Linked DNA regions of Homo sapiens: all the other regions are linked to region 4. Evidence: fine-mapped expression QTL. A gene starts in region 4. Each other region holds a variant in brackets. All regions are shown on one strand. Distances are from middle to middle. Region 1 overlaps KLHL3 (kelch like family member 3). Region 2 overlaps KLHL3 (kelch like family member 3). Region 3 overlaps KLHL3 (kelch like family member 3). Region 4 holds the start of KLHL3 (kelch like family member 3).

What was found. PIP is the estimated chance that this variant, and not a neighbour inherited with it, causes the effect. A credible set is the group of variants that fine-mapping cannot tell apart.
Region 1: its variant is the best candidate, but not a certain one, in a credible set for the expression of KLHL3 in testis (GTEx, PIP 0.59).
Region 2: its variant is the best candidate, but not a certain one, in a credible set for the expression of KLHL3 in whole blood (INTERVAL, PIP 0.64).
Region 3: its variant is the best candidate, but not a certain one, in a credible set for the expression of KLHL3 in unexposed skin (GTEx, PIP 0.55).

The regions. Positions count from the first base shown.
Region 1 is chr5:137,670,122-137,675,270 of GRCh38, forward strand. The region is part of intron 6 of KLHL3 (kelch like family member 3); the gene reads right to left. Among named protein-coding and RNA genes, the nearest start is that of MIR874, 25 kb to the left of the region's middle. The variant T/A (reference allele first, on the strand shown) is at 3,122.
Region 2 is chr5:137,680,813-137,685,961 of GRCh38, forward strand. All of the region lies in intron 5 of KLHL3 (kelch like family member 3), which reads right to left. Among named protein-coding and RNA genes, the nearest start is that of MIR874, 36 kb to the left of the region's middle. RefSeq lists silencers at 3,628-3,873, 3,848-4,142. The variant TTC/T (reference allele first, on the strand shown) is at 2,953.
Region 3 is chr5:137,688,796-137,693,944 of GRCh38, forward strand. It overlaps KLHL3 (kelch like family member 3), which reads right to left. Exons shown (of 15, transcript NM_017415.3): 5 at 3,490-3,652. Among named protein-coding and RNA genes, the nearest start is that of MIR874, 44 kb to the left of the region's middle. The variant C/T (reference allele first, on the strand shown) is at 2,801.
Region 4 is chr5:137,733,493-137,738,641 of GRCh38, forward strand. KLHL3 (kelch like family member 3) reads right to left here and starts at 2,597. Exons shown (of 15, transcript NM_017415.3): 1 at 2,141-2,597. The coding sequence starts at 2,154. RefSeq lists enhancers at 795-864, 2,196-2,864.

The DNA of each region.
Region 1 (5,149 bases), 63 kb before region 4:
ACATCTTCAAGAAACCCAAACCCTAGACTCATGCCACATAAAAATTGAGAGTTTGAACTGACATCACCCAGGTGGTATGGGAAATATCTAAGACAATATCTAATACAAAAACTGTTTCCTAAACCAGTAAACCTGCCCTACAGGGTCCACAGCCCAGGGCAACCTAGATTCCCAGGATATGACATCCTCTGAACATGAAGTCACAATCAAAAATTATAATTCATTTTGGAAATGAATTACCAAAAGACATATCAAAGATGCAAAAAATAGTAGAATATCTGGGACAACCAATGAAAGGTGGCTTAAAGACTCTACTCTATAATGTGTTCCTAAGGATACTAGATGCAGGAGATATTCTGTAGTAAAGGGGCTCAGGGGCCAAATGAGCCTAAGAAACACATCATACTGTATCCTCAAATATCCCTTAAAGGTTCACAAAGCTCATTACCATATAAAAGCTCTGACAACTCCTGTAGTAAAGAAACCTGGTTACTTTGTTCAGCCAGTGTCTCCTAAATGTATCTGACCTGAGAATGCTTAAAACAAACAAACAAACAAAAAAACCTGGCCAAGTGCTGTGGCTCACGCCTGTAATCCCAGCACTTTGCGAGGCTGAGGCAGGCGGATCATGAGGTCAGGAGTTCAAGACTAGCCTGACCAATATGATGAAACCCCGTCTCTACTAAAAATACAAAAAAAAAAATAGCCGTAAGTGGTGGCGGGCACCTGTAATCCCAGCTACTGAGGAGGCTGAGGCAGGAGAAACGCTTGAACCTGGGAAGCGGAGGTTGCAGTGAGCCGAGATCGTGCCACTGCACTCCAGCCTGGGCAAAGAGCGAGACTCCACCTCAAAAAAAAAAAAAAACAACAACAAAAAAGCCCCAAACACCTATAAACATCTTGTAATACTGTGTCTTTATGGGATACAGTTAAGCAAATACTGACCTGAAGAAGAAAGCTCTCACTCCTTAAATCTCTTCACAGACTCCTACCCCACTCCCAGCCTCATTTCCCACCATTCTCCACGGTCCTTGATTCTTATCACAGAGTTTACTTTTCTCCCCAGGTACGAGCTATTCCAAACTTCCAAGTCTTTAGTAGGAATAGTCCTACTATTCCTCCAACCTAAATGGCTTTCCAAAATTCTACCCTCATTCACCAAAGTTTAACTCAAAGACTCTCTTTTCCATGATGTCTTTCCTATACAACAACCTGGAATAAAATATTCCAGGTACTTTCCTTGAACTATAATTATAAGCAATTATTTCTCTTGGCCACGTACTATGGACACATGTTTTCAGTCCGTCTGCCCACCAGTCTATGAGCCCCTGAATAGAAATGACTACCTGTCACTCATCTCTGTACCCCTCATCAGGGTGGGGGTGCATTCATAAAGAGTGGGGCTTGGGAGGCAGACACACACAGCTTCACATCATGGAGCTATCTACGGTTAATGAGCTGTGTCACCTCTCTGAACCTTAGTTTCTTCGTCTGCAAAATGAAGACAATAATCTCTGCCTTGCAACTTGTTGTGAGGATTAGAAATGATGTTCTCTGAATGTCATGCTGGACAGGAAAAAATCAGACACAAAAGCACACACGCACCACTGTTCAATTTATATAAGCTTCCAAAATGGGTAAAACTCACCTAAGGTGTGAGAAGCCAAGAAGGTAGGTGCCCTTCCCAGGGTAGGGAGTAGTAACTGGAAGGGGGTTCTGGGGTTTGTTTCTTGACCTGGGTGCTAGTTATGTGGGTGTTTTACTTCGTAAAAAGTTTAGTTGTATACTTGATTTGTTTACTTCTCCATGAACTTACTTCAATACAAACTTCCTGTTTAAAAAAAAAATGATGAGTGAAACATACCTGGAGAACACTGGTTGGTCATGGTAGATTTGGGGGCACGGTGCTGTCATATTCTGTGCATGGGTAGTTATTGAATTCCACCATCCAAAGGAGAACAGTAAAAAGAGTAACGCCAAGGTAGGGCGTTAACAGATCACTGTTGTTGGCAAGCTGAGAAGCTGGCAACTCTGATAACCTCAGAGTAAGGCAGGGCTGCCAACAGCTCGGCCTAGGCAGCAGGGTACACCTGCTCAGTCACCTGGCAATGCCTCGGCAGCAATCATGCAAGCCCAGCCCACCGGCCAAGGCTCTCCAGCCTGCCTCCCACAGCCTGCCTCCCACAACCACCTTGCTGGAAAGGCAAGGAATTCAGACAGAAGGGCATGGAACACCAATGATCCTGGGAGACAAGGGCCCAGTCCCTCCCAAGAAATAAGATATCAAAATTTGGTCTCTAAAATGCAGTTTAAGGAGACAACAGCGCATTTTAAAATGTGATAATGCAAAGAGAAGTAACCTATAGTTCTTATTCCAGAACATACTTAACACTAATTTTTTAAAAAGACTTAATAAATTTCTTCCTGACCGGTATCTAAAATGCAGGCCATTTCCCTGTTAAGACTCACTCAGAGGTGTCTCTGAAAAGCCTCAATAGTGTTTCATAAGAAGGCAAGAGATCTTGAGATGGAGACATATATTTACCAGCTAGGAAAGCCAAAATTCAAAGAAGTCCAGTAACTTGCTAGGTCCCACAGCAATTCAACAGCAAAACTGCACTCGAACTCAGGAGTCATATCTCTTTCCTTAGAGTGGGTTTGTCCCAGAAGGTTGTTTATTCTGCCCCTGGGTCACTGGGTCACTGAGGATGTTCATGGCCAGAGCTGAACTTTGTGTCTCAAGGGGAAATACAATAAACATGCCGTCAGCTCACAGGCTTAGCCCTAACCCCTCAACACCCACCATGTGGAAGAATCAGATGCCTGGCTTTAATCTTCTTGTCTCTATCCTCAGGGTAGTGGAGTGTATGATAGATGCACCTGACAGCAATAACTTAAGCATACCCTGAGAATGACTCTACGGTCTAAGAAGAATGTGTGTTCAGTGTTCCACGCTAAGGAATCAAGAACCTGGAGATTCATTCCTTATCTATGAGGAACATCTGAACCCCAGCCCATCCTGGGAAATGCAGGCCATATAGGGGATTGAGGCCCTTTGTTTTGTGTTAAATGAAGGTTGCCAGGTGAAGGTCACCAGCAGGAGGGTGTTAAGTGAAAATGC[T/A]ATATAAACTGCATGCATTTTACAAGCAGTTGCAATTTCCTGTCCAGCCTGCCACCACTGGACAGCCCTGTACGTAAGTGCCCTCAATAAACCCTATGTCTTGTTCGCTGCCTCCGGGCCTCTTCTTCAACCTCTTGAACATGATGCCATCCCTATTGAAGTTAATAGGGGTCTGGCATGACATGAGGAAGGGGAAGGTCCTACACAATGAACTAGTGATTTTGTGTGACTCCCATCACATCCATTTGACCTCTCTCAATAACAAGAATTCTAAAATAAAAACCACATGAAGGAAAAACAAGAGCAAAAATGGCAAGGATTCATGCCCTCCCCTACCCTCTAATTCCCCTATCTGTCCTTACTCTCTAGAAAACTGTTAAAATTATTCCCATAACCTCAGCTGGCTCAGTGCAAACTCCAGCCCCAGTGTACCTCAATCCCTTGGGGGACATCTGCTGAGTCCTTCCGTGGCACCTCCTGGGGCACTGAGTCAGGTACTGCATGTGATACAAAGATGACTAAGGTACCCTCACAGCCCTCAAGGCATCTGAGGGCAGTAGAGGAGATAAGGAATGGGCAAAAGCAAGTGATGCTGGAAGAACAGTCTCTGAGCTCTGGGAGGGGCCCAGGCAGGGCTGGGGACACTGGGGAGCATGAGGTCACAACCACTCTCTGACCCTGCTAGGCACTGGGGCCCCAGGTCATGCCAACAACCCAGACCAACATGGGCACTGGGAAGACTCCCCCTTAGGAAAGGCTCCAGTCAACAGTTATGACTACTACTAGGAGCAGTACTAGTAGTAATAACCATAATAATAGCAGCAATAACAACAGTATCTTACAGTAATGAACACTTCTTATATTCTAAGCTTTTTTCATATATCATCCCATTTAATCCTCATAGCAACCTTACAAGGTAGATACTATACTACCATTACTCACCTTTTACAGATGAGAAAACTGAGCCATAGGGAGGTTCTTTTATTCGTCCTTTCAACAGCTATTTTTTTAGTGTCTACCATGAACCTGATACCACTCCAGCAGCGACAAGCAGACAGACAAAATTCCTGTCTATCTACTTGTATACGGTACATACATTCTTGTGGGAGATAAATAACTTGCCCAGGGTTCTCAGCTTGTTTAAGTAGGGAAGTCAAAATTCAAACTGAGCCCCTCTGACTGTAGAAGTTATACTTGCAAACTTACAAGATGAAAGCTGCCTGTTACTTACACTCATCATTAATAGTAAAATATTACATTTCCTCTATTTTAAGGCGTATGTGTTTTTTACATGTTAATGTCTGAAATCTGGCTTCATTTTATAATATATGTTCAAAGAAATCTGTGGGCTGCATGCAGAGTAAGTCATAATTGCCGTTATGCTGTTAAGTGTGGATTTAGTGGAACACCAGTTACTTGATTACCAACCCAGTTGGGTTTTCTGCAACTGTTAACATTATATGCAGTTGAATTTTAACTTAAGATCCCTAATATTACTTCAAATACATTTTAAAATTCCACTATAAAACAGTATTGAAAGGAAAGGTTATTATGCATGCAAGAGATTGCTTATCACACACAATGTAATTAAAGGGCGTAGAAATCACTAAATCTCCTGGAGCAGACACAGAATTTTCAAAGCCTAAAGGACTAGCATTAAAATGAAAAACATCTAATTGTCAGAAGCTTCCAGCTATTTAACTTCCAGCAAGACATGATCAATTATGGAGAAATAAAACTATGAGGTTAGCCAAAGAGAAAATGTAGACCAAGCCCCACTATTCTTTAATAAACCTCAAAATTACACTGCCAACCTTAAAGGTACTAAAGGGATCAAGATCATGAGTAATCTGCTTTATGAAAAGCAGCACATAATTCTGAAGTTACATATAAGTTCCAAGAAGCAAATATGAAATAGAACTTCGTTAATGTGAAAAATACCTATACTCCAAACTCTGGCTATACAGAAAGAGCAACTCATATGTAAGTATATGAATTATTGAGCAACACTGCAAACAATTTTTAAGT
Region 2 (5,149 bases), 53 kb before region 4:
GGATTACAGGTGTGAGCCACTGCGGCCGGCAGCACCACTCTTTAACAGAGAAGATTTTCTATATCAAGATATCCCTTGGGACCAGGCACAGTGGCTCATACCTATAATCCTAACAGTTTAGAAGGCTGCGCAGGAAGATCATTTGAGGTCAGGGGTTCAAGACTAGCCTGGTCAATAAAGTGAGGCCCCTCTCTATTTAAAAAAAAAAATGTTAAGACATCCTTTGGGACTGCAGATCCTATGGGCAAGGCTGTGGACCTGCAAGATCTTAGAGAACAAATTTAATTCTATCGAATTCAACAAACTGTCCAGTGGTATAGGTTATTCAGTTCCTTGAGGCTGCAGGTTTCCCATATATTAAATGGAAATAATAATAGTACATAAGGTGATATGGGCATTAAATAAAGAAATAGATGTGACTCACATTTACTGAGTCCATTGCAGGTGCTAGATAACTCTTAACGTATGATGTATCAAATGCAGCATTTCTTCAAAAATGAAGAAACCAGAACTGATGTCTACAAGGACCCTACTGCCTCACAAGCAAGATAAGACAAGGCATCAATAACTCCATCCCAAAGTCCACCTCTCACATGACTGAGAGAGGTACTTTCAGTACAAACAAAGGCAGGGAACAGGAAAATTCAGAGCATATGTAAAGAACAGTAATAGTGAAGTCTAGCTAGAACCTAGGTGATGTCTTCATTCATCCAACAAAGGTTTGCTGAGCACTCCCTAAGTATGAGGAGCTCTGCAGGCTCTTGGAGATGCAATGGAGAGGCAGACAAGGCTAGATCCTGGGGGAGGGATGCATGTGCCGGGGGCATAGTACCTTTTAACCATGGGTTAAAAGAGAGTTATTATTGGAGAGTTAGCCCTTGAAGGGTAACTCTCCAATAATAACTAACTTTTCTTATCGTTTCGCTTCTTTTTCTTTAAGAGGGGTGGACACAGAGAAAAATAAGTCAGTTAATTAAGAGTTCTGGTTAAGAGTCCTAATTAGCCAGGTTTTACTATAAGTAACAAATATTGTTTAAGTTCCATGTCCTGATTGGTAAAACACAATGAGTATGTTCCTGTCCATATGGATGGGAAATTATGGAGAAGAGGAAGAGGCACCATATAACTTTCAGTCTTTTCCCCATCAAGCAACACAAACATATCTTCCCAATGTTAAAAGGATAATAAAATTTGGGTGATATATTCCCAGGCAAGGGCTTTCTCTGGGGGTACAGTTGGGTCTCGGAGACAGTTGAGGCCATTTCCTAATACTAGCTAACACCATTCTAAGCATTTTACATATATTATGTCTCTCAATCCCCGCAAAAGCCCTACTAAAGTGAGTATCAACATCCCCATTTTACAGATGGAGAAACAGAAGCCCAGAAACTCTAAGACAGGTGCTTAGGTTTACAGAATAGTAAACCTGGTAGAGCCAGGTTTTGAACCAAGACTGCCCAATTATAATAACAAATATTCTGATGAGTATCTTAGGTACCAAGATAAACACCTATCCTGAGCAGTCCACTGGGGTAAAATTCAACACAGACATCAGAAAACCTTAAGAATCCCTCTCAGGGGTGCTGGACATAGAGAGAGAGAGAGAGAGAGAGAGAGAGAGAGGCATAGACAGAGGATATGCATCTAAAAACCTTTCTTTGGGGAAAAAAGAGAATAATCTTAGTCCCTAAATTCCTAACTTCTTGGCATTTTGGAGTCAGTTCTAGGTTCAAATCTCAGACCTAACCCCAGAATTAAGATATTTCCCTAATCCCCCCATCCACTAGGCTAGAGGAAGTGATAGTCTTTGGGGTTCCCAAAGCCCCCCAAACAAGATATAACAATCATATCCCTAATCACCCTGCTTTATTACATGAATCTTTCTATTCTATTCGGACTGGGAGCCCCATGAGGTCAGGGATCAAGTCTGTGTTATTTGAAGCTGAATCCTCAGTCTCCAGCATAATATCTGTATATACCGAGCTCTAAAATTATTACTGCACTTTCCTGACTGTTCTTCAAGACTGCCTAGGGTTCAGGCAACCTCTCAAGCTAGCCCCAGGACTATTCTTCTCTCTTCACGGAATGAAATAAACCTAAACCTTTGATCTGGTTCATCTAACCTACAAGCTCAGAACAAATGGAATGATGACCCATCTGTGACTTCCTTGACTTTGCGGGGATTGAGAGACATAATATATGTAAAATGCTTAGAATGGTGTTAGCTAGTATTAGGAAATGGCCTCAACTTTCTCTGAGACCCAACTGTACCCCCAGAGAAAGCCCTTGCCTGGGAATGTATCACCCAAATTTTATCATCCTTTTAACATTGGGAAGATATGTTTGTGTTGCTTGGTGGGAAAAGACTGAAAGTTATATGGTGCCTCTTCCTCTTCTCCATAATTTCCCATCCACATGGACGGGAACATACTCATTGTGTTTTACCAATCAGAGATGAAATAAACCCCATAAGCCCCATAATTCCCAGGGCCAGCAGCCCCAGGGAACAGGTGTGAGTGCCTCTGAACTGAACCACAGGTCACACCCTCAGGAGACACTGGCTGACACAGGTGGACACACAAACAAAATGGAAACATTTTGGCAGGGTGAAAAAACAAAACCACAGAACTGCCTTAAAACTCTCTCTTCTGCCCCTTATTACTCTATTTTTAGAGGCCAGAGGCAAGCTTCCTTGAATCAATATTTAGCTTTCCAGGCTCACAGTTTCTCTGCTCTAGGGAAAAGGCTCAGTTCCCACAGGGAAGTAACAGAGACCCACCTTGACCTCTTCTCAGAAGGGTCATGACCACCAGCCCTCAGACTCTAAATATTACTACCTCCACACTCCCTGGGAAGGCAGGAAATAAGCTCTCTTTCCATGTTGCCTTACTCCAGAAATATTATGTGTTGTCCTCTCCCTCTCTTTCTCTCTCTCTCTCTCTCTAGCTCTCT[TTC/T]TCTCTCTCTCTCTCTCTCACACACACACATGCACGCGCACACACACACACACACATACACACAGCCAAGGGCCATAATAGTGCTATTGATTCAACAGTGAGGTTCCCCATAACCCAGAAAATGGAACAAGTGAAGTTTCCTAAAATCCTAACAAAGAGCAAGCAACGAAACCTATCTGTGTCTGCACGACTGCCTCATTTGCCAACTTCAAATTAGATGCAGAAAATCCAAGAGAGGCAGGAGTGAGGCAACCATCATAGAAAATAGGCTAGGCTGGTCTGGGTGGGTGGGAAATAAGTAGCGGGGCTTAGGACACAGACCTCTGCAGTCAGCTGGCCTCACTCTGGCACTGCCACTTATAAGCTGTTAATATATGATCTTGGACAAGTTACTAAACTTCTCTGGGGTTACAGTTTCTTCACCTATAAGCTGAGAAAATAATAACTCTTATACTTAAATGAACAAAATGAGGCCATGCCTATGAATCATGTAGCACCATTCCTGGCACCTAGCAAGTATTCAAAAATGATAGAAATGCCCATCATTATGATCATCATTATTTCATGGTGACAAGTTAGGAGCAGCAATTTTAGAAGAGGACTCTCACTGAGTCAGAGATTTATGTTTTTTAATGATTTTCCAAATTTTTCTGCTGCCTTAATTACTTCATTCCATGATCTCAAATGACTCAATCAATCAAAAAAAGGCCATTTCTCTCCATAAGCACGTGAAATCCAATGGCTTTTCCATCCCATGGCTGGAGGTTTTTGCTTAGCTTTGGCAGACTGATGTAAACAACATGTCCAAAGAATTTTAATTGCTATTTCATTAATGAAGTCCCATTAACATCCCTCCCAAACAGCTCTGCTGATGGCCCAGTGTATGGCTGTCCAATTACCAAACAACAAAGTCCCCATAACCCTAGGCCCTGGCCTCTGAGGTTAAAGATTAAGCAGTCCCTGGAAACAACAATAATGAGGTATAAGAAACAGGCTGTGAAAGACACTGGGGTCCATTTCCCAGCTACTAGTTGCCCAGGAAGACTGTGATGCCACTAGCTAAGGCAAGAGTCTGAGCAGTCAGCTTCTAAATGCGGGACCTACCCTCCCTACCCCAGAATAACATATATCATAGCAAAGATCTGGGGAACTTCCCTGAGGGGGAAACTGAATCCAGAGGAAGCAGGAGGGACTGCCACAGCAGGAAGAGACAGGGCCCTTCCAAACAGGAAACCAAATAGGCAGCTGGACATAGAGATGATGCTTCAGCCCCCACAAAGTTGTGCTCTCGCTGGAAAAGCCGAGGACCTATCAGAAGGCAAGACTGGCTTTAAAATAAAGTCACATTTGTTTAGACAGCAAGTTGGCAAAATCTATCAAACAACTTTTTAATGTACATTCTCTTTGATCCAACAACTATGCTACTAAGATTGTACCCTACAGGTATACTAGCAAGTGTACTCCAAAATATTATGTACAAGAATTCTCATGGAAGCATTTTAAATAAAAAAACTGGAAACATTAATGTCCATCAACAGAAGACTGGTTAAATAAATTATACTCCATCCATGAGATGCAGCAGACTAAAAGAATAAGATATAGCCATACACAAGGGTGTGGAAATAATTGCAAGATTTGTATTGTCAAACAAAAGTACAACGAGTACAGAGTGCTTTCTGTTGTGTAAGTTAAAAAGCATAATATATAAATTCTGTAAGGATACCAAGGATCTCCCCACTTCAGAGAGACAGGCTGGGAGAAGACTGGCTTTGCATTTTATACCTCTATGTACTGCTTGCATTTTTTGGTCATGAGTATAAATTGCTTTTATTGAATATATTACCTAAATGTTTCAAACAATGGTCTAGAAATGTATCTGCTAACATGGAAAGAAATTCAGAATATACTGCTAAGAATGTTTTTTTAAGAGATGGGGTGTCTTGTTATGTTACCCAGGCTGGATTCAAATTCCGTGGCTCAAGCTACACATGAATGCTTGAGCTATCAACCTCAACCTCCCAAGTAGCTGGGACTATAGGCACCTGCTACTGTACCTGGCTAAAATGTTTTTTAAGCTGGAAAGCATACATATACAATGAAAAAGATTTGGAAGGATATACATCAAGGTGCTGCCAGCAGTTCTCTCTGGGTAGGATTGTGGTATAATTCTTTCCACCCATGTGCTTTTTCTGTAA
Region 3 (5,149 bases), 45 kb before region 4:
ATAAAATGCTTAGCATAGGGTATGACCCAAAGGGAGAGCTCAATAAACACTAGCTAAGAATAATTCATCAGGATGTCTGCATACACAGACCCATAATGCAGACAGAACTCAATCACTATAACAGCAACAGGACCAAGGAGCACCAGAAAGATGGATGTGTTCCCAGCTGCATCTGCTGCACTCTCCCACAGATGAGTCTCATCATCAGATAGTGAAAGGGGCAAAGGAGAAAACACAGACGTTGAAAGTTGGGAAAAGCCAGGCCAGAAGAGCCTGGGAGCCCTAATAAAGGTGGGGATTCACATTAGAGAAATGCACATCAAAACTACCAAGTGATACCATCTCATACCAGTCAGGATGGCTATTATTAAAAAGTCAAAAAACAACAGATGCTGGCAAGGTTGCAGAGAAAAGGGAATGCTTATATACTGCTGGTGGGAATGTAAATTAATTCAGCTACTGTGGAAAACAGTCTGGAGATTTCTCAAAGAACTAAAAATAGAACCACCATTTGACCCAGCAACCCCATTACTGGGTATATACCCAAAGGAGAATAAATTGTTCTACCAAAAGACACATGCACACATATGTTCATTAAGCACTATTCACAATAGCAAAGACATGCAATCAATCTAGGTGCCCATCCACAATGGATTGGATAAAGAAAATGTGGTACACCATGGAATACTACGCAGCCATAAAAAAGAACAAAATCATGTCCTTTGCAGTAACATGGACACAGCTGGAAGCCATTATCCTAAGTTAATTAACACAGAAACAGAACACCAAATATCACGTGTTTTCACTTGTAAGTGGGCTAAACCCTGGGTGCCTATGGACATAAAGATGGGAAAAACAGACACTGGGGACTCCAAAGGGAGTGGGGGCAAGGGCTGATAAATTTCCTATTGGGTACTATGTTCACCATCTGAGTAATGGGATCAACAGAAGCCAAAACTCAGCATCACACAATATACAAACATAACAAACCTGCATATGTACCTCTTGAATCTAGAATGTAATTTTAAATTTTAAAAAAGGTGGGGATTCAGTATACTCCCCAAACCTCAGACAACTGTATCAGCCAATTAGGGTGGGATATGTGCTAGGTGTACACACACATGCATCACACACTATGTGGAAGGAGAGGGCTGGTAAGAGGAGACACAGAAGAAGGAGACAGAATTTCTGACATCTAAGCACTCTCCCTTTGCCACTGCACTAGCAAACGTTTGTGAAAAGAATCTGCAGGCCAGGCACAGTGGCTTACGCCTGTAATCCCAGCACTTTGGGAGGCTGAGGCAGGCGGATCACAAGGTCAGTAGATCGAGACCATCTTGGCTAACACGGTGAAACCCCATCTCTACTAAAAATACAAAAAATTAGCCTGGCGTGGTGGCAGGCGCCTGTAGTCCCAGCTACTCGGGAGGCTGAGGCAGGAGAATGGCGTGAACCCAGGAGGCGGAGCTTGCAGTGAGCCGAGATTGCACCACTGCACTCCAGCCCAGGCGACAGAGCGAGACTCCATCTCAAAAAAAAAAAAAAAAATCTGCAGAGAAAATGCTTGCCTTAGCACACCCATCCATCTAGAAAGTGACCTCTTCAAAGGCTTCACTGGGAGCCCTCCCCAGGAAGAGAAAGGGCTCCCTAAGTGAAGGTGGAAAGGCAGTGGAGAATATGCAGGGAAAAGAGAGCACAGGAACGGCAGAGAAGCAGAAGGGTCAAGGTTCAGAGCCAGAAAGAATCAGCAGGACTCAGAATTGAGGCTACTGGGTAATGTCCTTCACAAAAATCATCATATCAAGACTATCTTTACAAGTCTTCAGAAAGAAGACTTGTTTGTGCCTTCAGAAACAGGCTGCAGGGAGACATGAGAGTCTCTGCAGGCTCCTGGGGTCAGGGACTTAATCAGAGAGAAAAAGCATGCCAAGAAATGGAGCAAATGCTTGTTGCTTTGTTGACCAAGAGGCTAACACAGCACAGGTAGCTAGCTGGCAGGTGGGCAGCCAGTAGGTCCTCAGCTAATTTCCAGACACTGGCCAAACAGGAGACACGGAACAGAATAGCAGCCATGACAGTGCTTGAGCAGGGGTAAGAAGGAGGTGTTTTATTGCAAGGGAAGAAGGTGGCCATGACTGAATTTATCAAGTTAAATGATCAGACCTATTTCCTAGTCATTCACCATCTTTCTTCAGGCTGGAACAAGTGGCAATGAAGATTTCTTTCCAGCTAGCTAAATAAACATAATGGACTGAATATAAATGTTCATTTCTACTCCCTCCCAAAACCCCATTAAAATAATAGAATGACAAGCTCTAGTGCAGAGAATGTCTCCAAGAAAAATAAGTGAACCAACAGATTATCTGATGTATTGAGGACTGTTCTAACAAGAATTAGTGGTAGAACCATACACTATGCAAGAGAAAAAGACAATTATTAACTGCCCTTCTTATTAAAGTTTTCTGATTTAAAAAAACACTATAATTATAATAGATGGCTTAGTTCAGTTGTGGAAATGGTATTTGGACAATAAAGAGGGGGGTGGCTGCATGTGTATAAAGGGAAAGTCTGCAAAAGCTCAATCTTATTCTTCTGGAGAAGTCAACAAATAATATCTAAAACTAATCAAAAAATAGCAGTTGCACATATTATTTTGATAAATGGAAGTGAGTAGCAGATGAAGTAGCTTTTAGCTGGATCAGAACCTGCATTTTAATTCCTTAAGGATTGAAAATGAGTGGCTCTGGAGCACAAGACTCAGTGTGGAAAGGTGGAGCAGGGCACTCCTCATCGTTATAAG[C/T]CCTGCAATAGTACGTGACTTTTTTTTTTTTTTTAGATGGAGTCTCGCTCTGTCACCCAGGCTGGAGTGCAGTGGCGAAATCTCGGCTCACTGCAAGCTCCGCCTCCCGGATTCACACCATTCTCCTGCCTCAGCCTCCCAAGTAGCTGGGACTACAGGCGCCCGCCACCAAGCCCCGCTAATTTTTTTTTTTTTGTATTTTTAATAGAGACGGGGGTTTCACCGTGTTAGCCAGGATAGTCTCGATCTCCTGACCTCATGACCCGCCTGCCTCAGCCTCCCAAAGTGCTGGGATTACAGGCGTGAGCCACTGCGCCCAGCCAGTACGTGACTTTTAAAAGAATGTTTATGGAACGCTCAGATAAAAACAAAGCTTTTCTTAACAATAACAAGACGTAGCTCAAGACCTAGCTCAGTTTGCTCTCCCCACTCCCCAAATCTTCTTGGATCTCCTTCCTCTACTCTAGTGAAAATTACTGTCTGTACCATCCCCTTGGCAATTAATCATTTTCCACTTGGCAATGAGCTAAACTGTCCTATCATTAATTATCTTTCCACCTGTATCCCTAACTAAATCATAGCTGCTTCACAGCAGAGACCACTTCTCATAATCTTTGAGGAGTCTGCAGAAGACCAGGTGATTAGATCCACAAACTCGGAGGAGGTGCAGCAGTCCGGCTCCCCCTTACCTGCGTAGGCATTGGCCTGCTGCAGAAGGTCAGTGCAGGTGTGTACATCTGCAAATGCACGGATGCCCAGGCAATTGGTGGGATGCAACTGAGACTGCAGGAAGTCACAGCAGTTCTGCCGAACATCCATGAGCTGCAGCAAGCTGGCTGCCGGGAGCAGCACCTGCAAGAGAAGGTGACATTCTCAGATATTGGATCCCACTGGCAGAGACTCATCTGCCTTTTCCTATCATATCACTCCCATGCTCAAGATCTTTTCATGGCTCTCCACTGCCCGCCAGTAAGTCCAAACTTCCTAGCCTGCTTTCCAGCCTTATTTCCCACTACTCTGCCCTTCACGGACCCTAAACACCAGCAGATTCTCTGTATCCCTACAGCCATGCTTCCCAGTCTTTAATCCCTGGGGATCTTATTAAAATGCAGATTCTAATTCATTAGGTCTAGGATGGGATCTGAGAGCCTGCATTTCTAATAAGAACTCAAGTGATGCTTGCAGTTGCTGGTCCACAAACCACACTTTGAGTAACAAAACTCTACACACACACACACACACACACACACACACACACAATGGTTCTCATACTGGGCTGCACACTGGTATTACCTTAAGAGTTTTAAAACTACTGATGTCTAGGTCTTGCCCTAAAAGAATCTAACTCAATAGGTATGGAGTGTGGCCTGGACATTAAGATGTTTTTTAAAGCTCCCCAGGTGCTTCTAATGTACAGCCACGTTTGAGAGCCACTGTCCCACAACCTTCAGTGTACTGTCCTCATTCAGAAAGGTACTTAATGAATGATTAATTACTGAACATCTATGTGCCAGGCACTAGTTTAGGCTCTGGGATTCAGGGGTAAGCAAGAGAAACCAGATCCTGTTCTCCTGGAGCTTAGAGTCTACTGGAACAAGATTCATTCCAAATCCCTCAGGACTCAGGCAACGACACTTTATTCTCCCATCAAACAGATACAAAGCAAAGAACATCTTTAGGTACATTCTTAGAGAAAGGAGAGCTAAGTTTCCATTTAAAAGGTCACAGGACACATGACTATTTATACTATATCCTGAAAGACAGAAATAGTTCTTGCTCAGGTGTATATGCATGTGTTTTTCCTAAGGGTCAGGGAAGACTGGCTTGAGCAGGCCCGCTGGGTGCTCAGACAGCCAACCTCTATCAATTTTCCCTAGGACTTTCCCTCAGCTGCTGAAGCCTGCCTCTAGATCAAACATACAGGACAAAAGGCCAAAGTCCTGTCCCACTCCAGCTCTGCTACCCTGCCCTTCACCTATGGAAGCAGCAGGTAGTCTGAGAATGATTTTCCAAAAAGAAATTTAGAAAAAAAATCACACTACAGAATAGCTTGATTTAAGGCTGCTTATCTTGGGGACCCTGGCATCCACTTCACCCCAAAATAATCCCCTTGCCCCAGGCCTTTGCTCTCAGCTGCTGCCCTGGCTCTGAGAGAGTGACTGAGCCAGCTACACTCTAGCTGTTCCCAGCCACAAGGGCTTGCCCAGGAAGATATGGGCTGCAGATGCATTTGTTTTCTTGATTCAGGACACTTGAAAAAGACTTCTTTTTTTTTTTTTTAAGTGCTTTAAATTCTGGACTCTTTCTCCCAAGACAGCTCTGAGTCCTCAGCTCTGACTCTCATCACTT
Region 4 (5,149 bases):
CAAGTCTGGGGACTGCTAAGATATATGAAATAAAAGCACTGAAAGATCTGGTGGGCCTATTATTCAGTGTCCAACTATGAGATACAAACCAGAGGTATTAGAATTCCGAAGAACATCAGCCAGGACTAGAAAAGCTGAGTTTCCAAGATAAAGTAGAATTTTAGAATAACCTTGATAGATAGATAACTTTTGCAAAATTGGAAGGGAAAGACATCCAGCAAAAGAAACTCTGGGAGCTAAGGATATGAGGCTAGATGGAGTAATGTATAGGATGGGTGATCATGAAAGAGATCAACAGAATTCTCAGTAGGTATATGAGTGAGCAGTGGAAATGGGAACAGGAGTTAGAGTTCAGAAGACTTGAACGCGTGGCATGGTAAGCTGGACTTGGAGCAGGAACAAAAGGTATGACCTGGGTGACCTGGTGAACATTGGAAGCTGCTCGGTTTGGATTTCTTGTCTACCATCTGCCTTCAGCAGAGGAAAAGTACAAGAACATGTGCAACCTGGTGTTCTAAAGCCATAGACATCAGCCATCCCAGCTGAGAGGCCCCAGGACAGGGGCAAGGACTCACTATATTTCTGAACACAGAACTGGGAACACAGTGCCCAAAACTGTTTGATCCGCTGCTGGTAGTCTCACACTGACCTCTCAACCCCAGTTACACCACAGGTCAAGCAAATAGGCATGGCCCAGAATCTCTAAACCTTCATCGCATCAACCCCATTCTCTGCCACCTACCAGATCAATGGGACACTGTTTTGGGGACCAAAGACACTGCTCACCTCTGCCCCACACTTAGGAAATAGGCCTTCATATTCTGCTGCTCAGCAGGCCTCACAGAGTTCAACACTAAACTCCTGTTGCAAAGAGCACCCAGAAAGAGAATGCACCAGCAGCACAGTCAGTCCCAGGCTCTTCCTGTGGGAGTCATCAAGAAACACAGTTCCCAGGGCCTCTACAGACAAAAGAATGACACCCAATCATCATGCTAGTTCTAATAGGGTCTAGAGATGTTTAATGGCATCACTGTGCCCCGTGAGACACAGAAGTCACAACAACTCATGAAAAGGAAAGTGTTCATTGAGATACTCTCTAGTGTTGACTTAGTTGAGCCTATTATTGTTAACCAGATGGTTACTGTCTGCATCAAACTGGCAATCTGGAGCAGCAGGCTTCCCCTCAGTGGTGCACTGCCATGGCCGGACCCCTCCCTGCAGTCTTCTCTCCTCAGATAAAATGGCAAGCCTCGTACTCTACCAACTGCAGACCAAAGAATGAAGAGGTTGGCACTCAAGAGATATTTTACTTCATAGACAGAGGAATGTCACCTCTGCACTGCGCTGAGCACCTTCACAATGAAAGATTCAGATCTTCAGATAACAATTTAAAAATTTAGATGTGTGTGCCTGCCAGGATCTAACTGCCTCGCTAGTTAGATCCAGCTCAACAAAAGTACTTAAAATCTTTTCTGCTGGTTCCTATTTCAAAAGAAATCCCTGATGGAGGAAGCACAGACCTTCCAGTATCACTCATAAACTTTTCAATACAAATATGAAACTCAGTTCAGAGCAAGTATCATCTGACTGGGTTTCTCTCCTTCATCCCTGAATGTGTGTGTATACAGGCATACACGGCGTGCACGCGCGCACACACACAGCCATCAGCATGGCATGCTTGCTGAAGATTCAAGCACTCCTGCGTGAAAATGCAAGTACACTATGTCAGGTCAGCCCCACTATGACATCAAAAACCCCCCACCAAAGAAAAAACACCCCGGGAAAGGAGCCAGGAAAGGGAAACGCCTCCTTGAAACAGCCTGAGAAAGGCAATCTGATTCAGCCTGTGCTGAAACTATTCCCGAACACCAGCCAGGAAGTCCCTTCTTTCAGGGTGCTCCGCTGCCTAGCAAACCCAGACCTGCCTTTGCGGAAGCCAGATCTCTGGAGATTCAAGCCCTGGAACGGGTGATTTGGAAAGCGGCTTTCCTGCTCTTGTTCTGGCGCCCTTTAAGATCCATCAGTGGCCAGGTCTTCCAACTCTGCCTAGCCAATGCAAACACAAAAGCTGGTGGCTGCACCGCAAGCACACATACACTTACATACACACACAACACAGCACACACTTATACATACATACCTTTCACCCTCCATTGTGTGAGGCCCAGCCAGGGTGGTAGCTGCTGAACTGTGTATGCACTCGGGGATCCTAGTTCTGTTCTTGATTCTCCCAGCAGACCAGTGGGAAATCTGATCAGCAACAGTGATTCAGCATGGCTGCAAGTGAAGCCTCCTCCCTTCTCAATCCTCCTTCCTCTGACTTACTCGCAGCAGCTTCTACCGCAAAAGCAGCAGCAACAGAAAATGTCTTACCCAGAGCTCCCTGCAGCCCTTTCAGCTGCTAAAAGCAGCAACCCACTTGCTCCCCCTCCCCCGCAGGCTTGCTGCTCCTTGGTCTCCTAGGAACGGCGGCAGCTCCAGCGACCCAGGTGCACTGCCACCTTTCCAGCTTCCTCTGCATCTGCCCAGGCATCCCCAGCCCAGGCGATTAGCCCGCCCCTGGGGCTCCTGCCTCCTCTGTCTAGGCTGCAAAGAATCAGGCAGTTCGTCACTAGCCCGAGAAATACTGGCCCCTACACCCTCCCCTGCTCCCATAGGCTATGAGTCTGTCAGCCTGGCCAGATTGCTGGAATGAGGAGGCCCCTCTGTGGCCTGCAGTGGAGTTTATCATCCACCTGGGGAAATTCACTTGTAGGTCACAGTTTATGTTCCAAATCCTCCTCCCAAATTCTGTAGTAGCTCTGAGTGTCTGATAGATGGGGAGAAGTTAAGGGAAAAGCACCTGACAGAAGTGAGAAAAACACAGAGAGAAATTAAGAGAATACAGAGAGAAATTGGAAAACTAGTCGAAAAAGAGAGGTAGTACAAATAGGTGAAACTGAAACAAACCCTATTTTACTGCAAGAGGCCAAAGACTACTGCAGTAAAGCTATCACAATGAATACTAAAATATCTTAGCACAATCCTAAAATATCTTCCTAAAATCTGTCATATTGGAATTTAACTTAAGCAGTGGCTCCAACTAGTAAGTCTCCCACTGAACCCCCATATCCAGCCAAAGATCTTTCACATCCTGTAATCTCCAGCTGCTGAGCTTCAATTTAGACTAATTTAACTCTCCCTGCCTGAAATGCCTTCTCCAATCCCAGTCCTTTAGTCTTTCTGGGAGTCCAGTCAAATCCCATGTCTTCATAAAACCTTCCCTAATCACACCAATGACAGTCAATCACCACCAAAATACACAAACTATACTTTCCTGTATCGTCATCTCACACCTAATATACAGTCTTGGCTAATTCATTATTTATAAATCTTCTTTCCCAAACTAAAACATAATCTTGTGGAAGGCATGAGGCCAGTCTGTATATCCTAGCCACAGAGGCTTAGAGGTAACTGGGACAATTAGCTGCAAAAAGTGGTGCAGAAGCTATCCTAATGCCTCAGAAAAAAATCAGCTATGAGCATCTCTCTTCTGGGACACCTCATGGCACCCCTGGGCTTTTCCGAATCCACACCAGCACTCACTGGGTGAGTGACTTTCCTGAGTAGTGTTCTCCACACTCTGGACCTCATGCTCAGCTACTCATTCACAATATAGGGTCAGACCAGACAATCTTTAGAGTCCCTTTCAGCTCCAAGATCACAGGATTCTAAAAATGTTTTAAATGGTCCGTTTTTCTTCTCAGAGTAATCCGTGTGATTGTTTAAGAAGAAATACTAGGCTCCAATGTGTTGTAGGGGGCTTCAAGGAGGATAACATGATGTAGGTGAAAGTACGAAGAGACGCTCAGTAAATCTATCATCCTTATCATTTTAACCTGTTAAATTTCTTCACTACTACAAAGCCCTAAAACCACAGAAGGAAGAGAGGAACACTGAGGTGACAGAAAGTAAAAGTAACTAAAACTTTATATAGCCTCCTGAACTCAAACTGGCTACAGGGTTATTCTCAAAGATTACCTCCCCTGGCACCTCAGTGTTCTCTTAGACAAGGCCATTACTCACACTCACTCTTTCTCAAGTGAGAAGAGGCCTGGATAATTTCATTTACACCCCACAGGGCTGTATCTTCACTTCTTCCTTGCACAACAATACCCCTCATATCTTGTTCCCTCTATGTCCCTTCCTCCTCTAATCAGCCTTGTGGCCCTGCTCCAGATATTTCCTCTTGAGGCCAATCACAGGGACCACAAAAAGCTGAACATCACAAATAAGGAAACTGAATCTCGGAATCCGTGCCAGAGTTCAGACATCCACCAGGAACACAACTGGGTGATTCATAAAAGGGACATAAGAAAGAGATGACTCCTCCTTTGCACATACCCACGTTTACATATTCGCCATACAGGAAGGTGTGGAAATGCCACATCTAACAAACCAGACAAAGAAAAAAGATCAGAAAAGGAAATATGTAAGGGTTGTATGTATTCAAGTTTCAAAATATAACTATTAAGAGCCAGTATAAAACCCTGCTAAATTTCCCTGCAAAACCATACGACTACACCTTCATACTTTATTCACCACTCATGATTCACAGGAGGTAGACAGAATAGAGAACACTCAGAAGAGGCCATTTAGAAAAGAAAGGTCATCTTAAGCAAAAAGAACAAAACTGGAGGCACCACATTAACTGACTTCAAACTATACTACAAGGCTACAGTAACCAAAACAGTATGGTATTGGTACAAAAACAGACACATAGACCAATGGAACAGAAAAGAGAACCCAGAAATAAAGCTGTTCACCTACAACCAACTGATTTTCGACAAAGTCAACAAAAATAAGCAATGGGGAAAGGACTTCAATAAATGATGCTGGGATAACTGGCTATCCATATGCAGAAGAAACTGGACCCTATCACCATATATAAAAATTAACTCAGGCACAGTGGCTCATACCTGTAATCCCAACACTTTGGGAGGCCAAGGCGGGCAGATCACCTGAGGTCAAGAGTTTGAGACCAGCCTGGCCAACCTGGTAAAACCCCATCTTTACTAAAAATACTACAATTAGCCAGGTGTGGTGGCATGTGCCTGTAGTCTCAGCTACTTGGGAGCCCGAGGCAGGAGGATCACTTGAACCTGGGAGG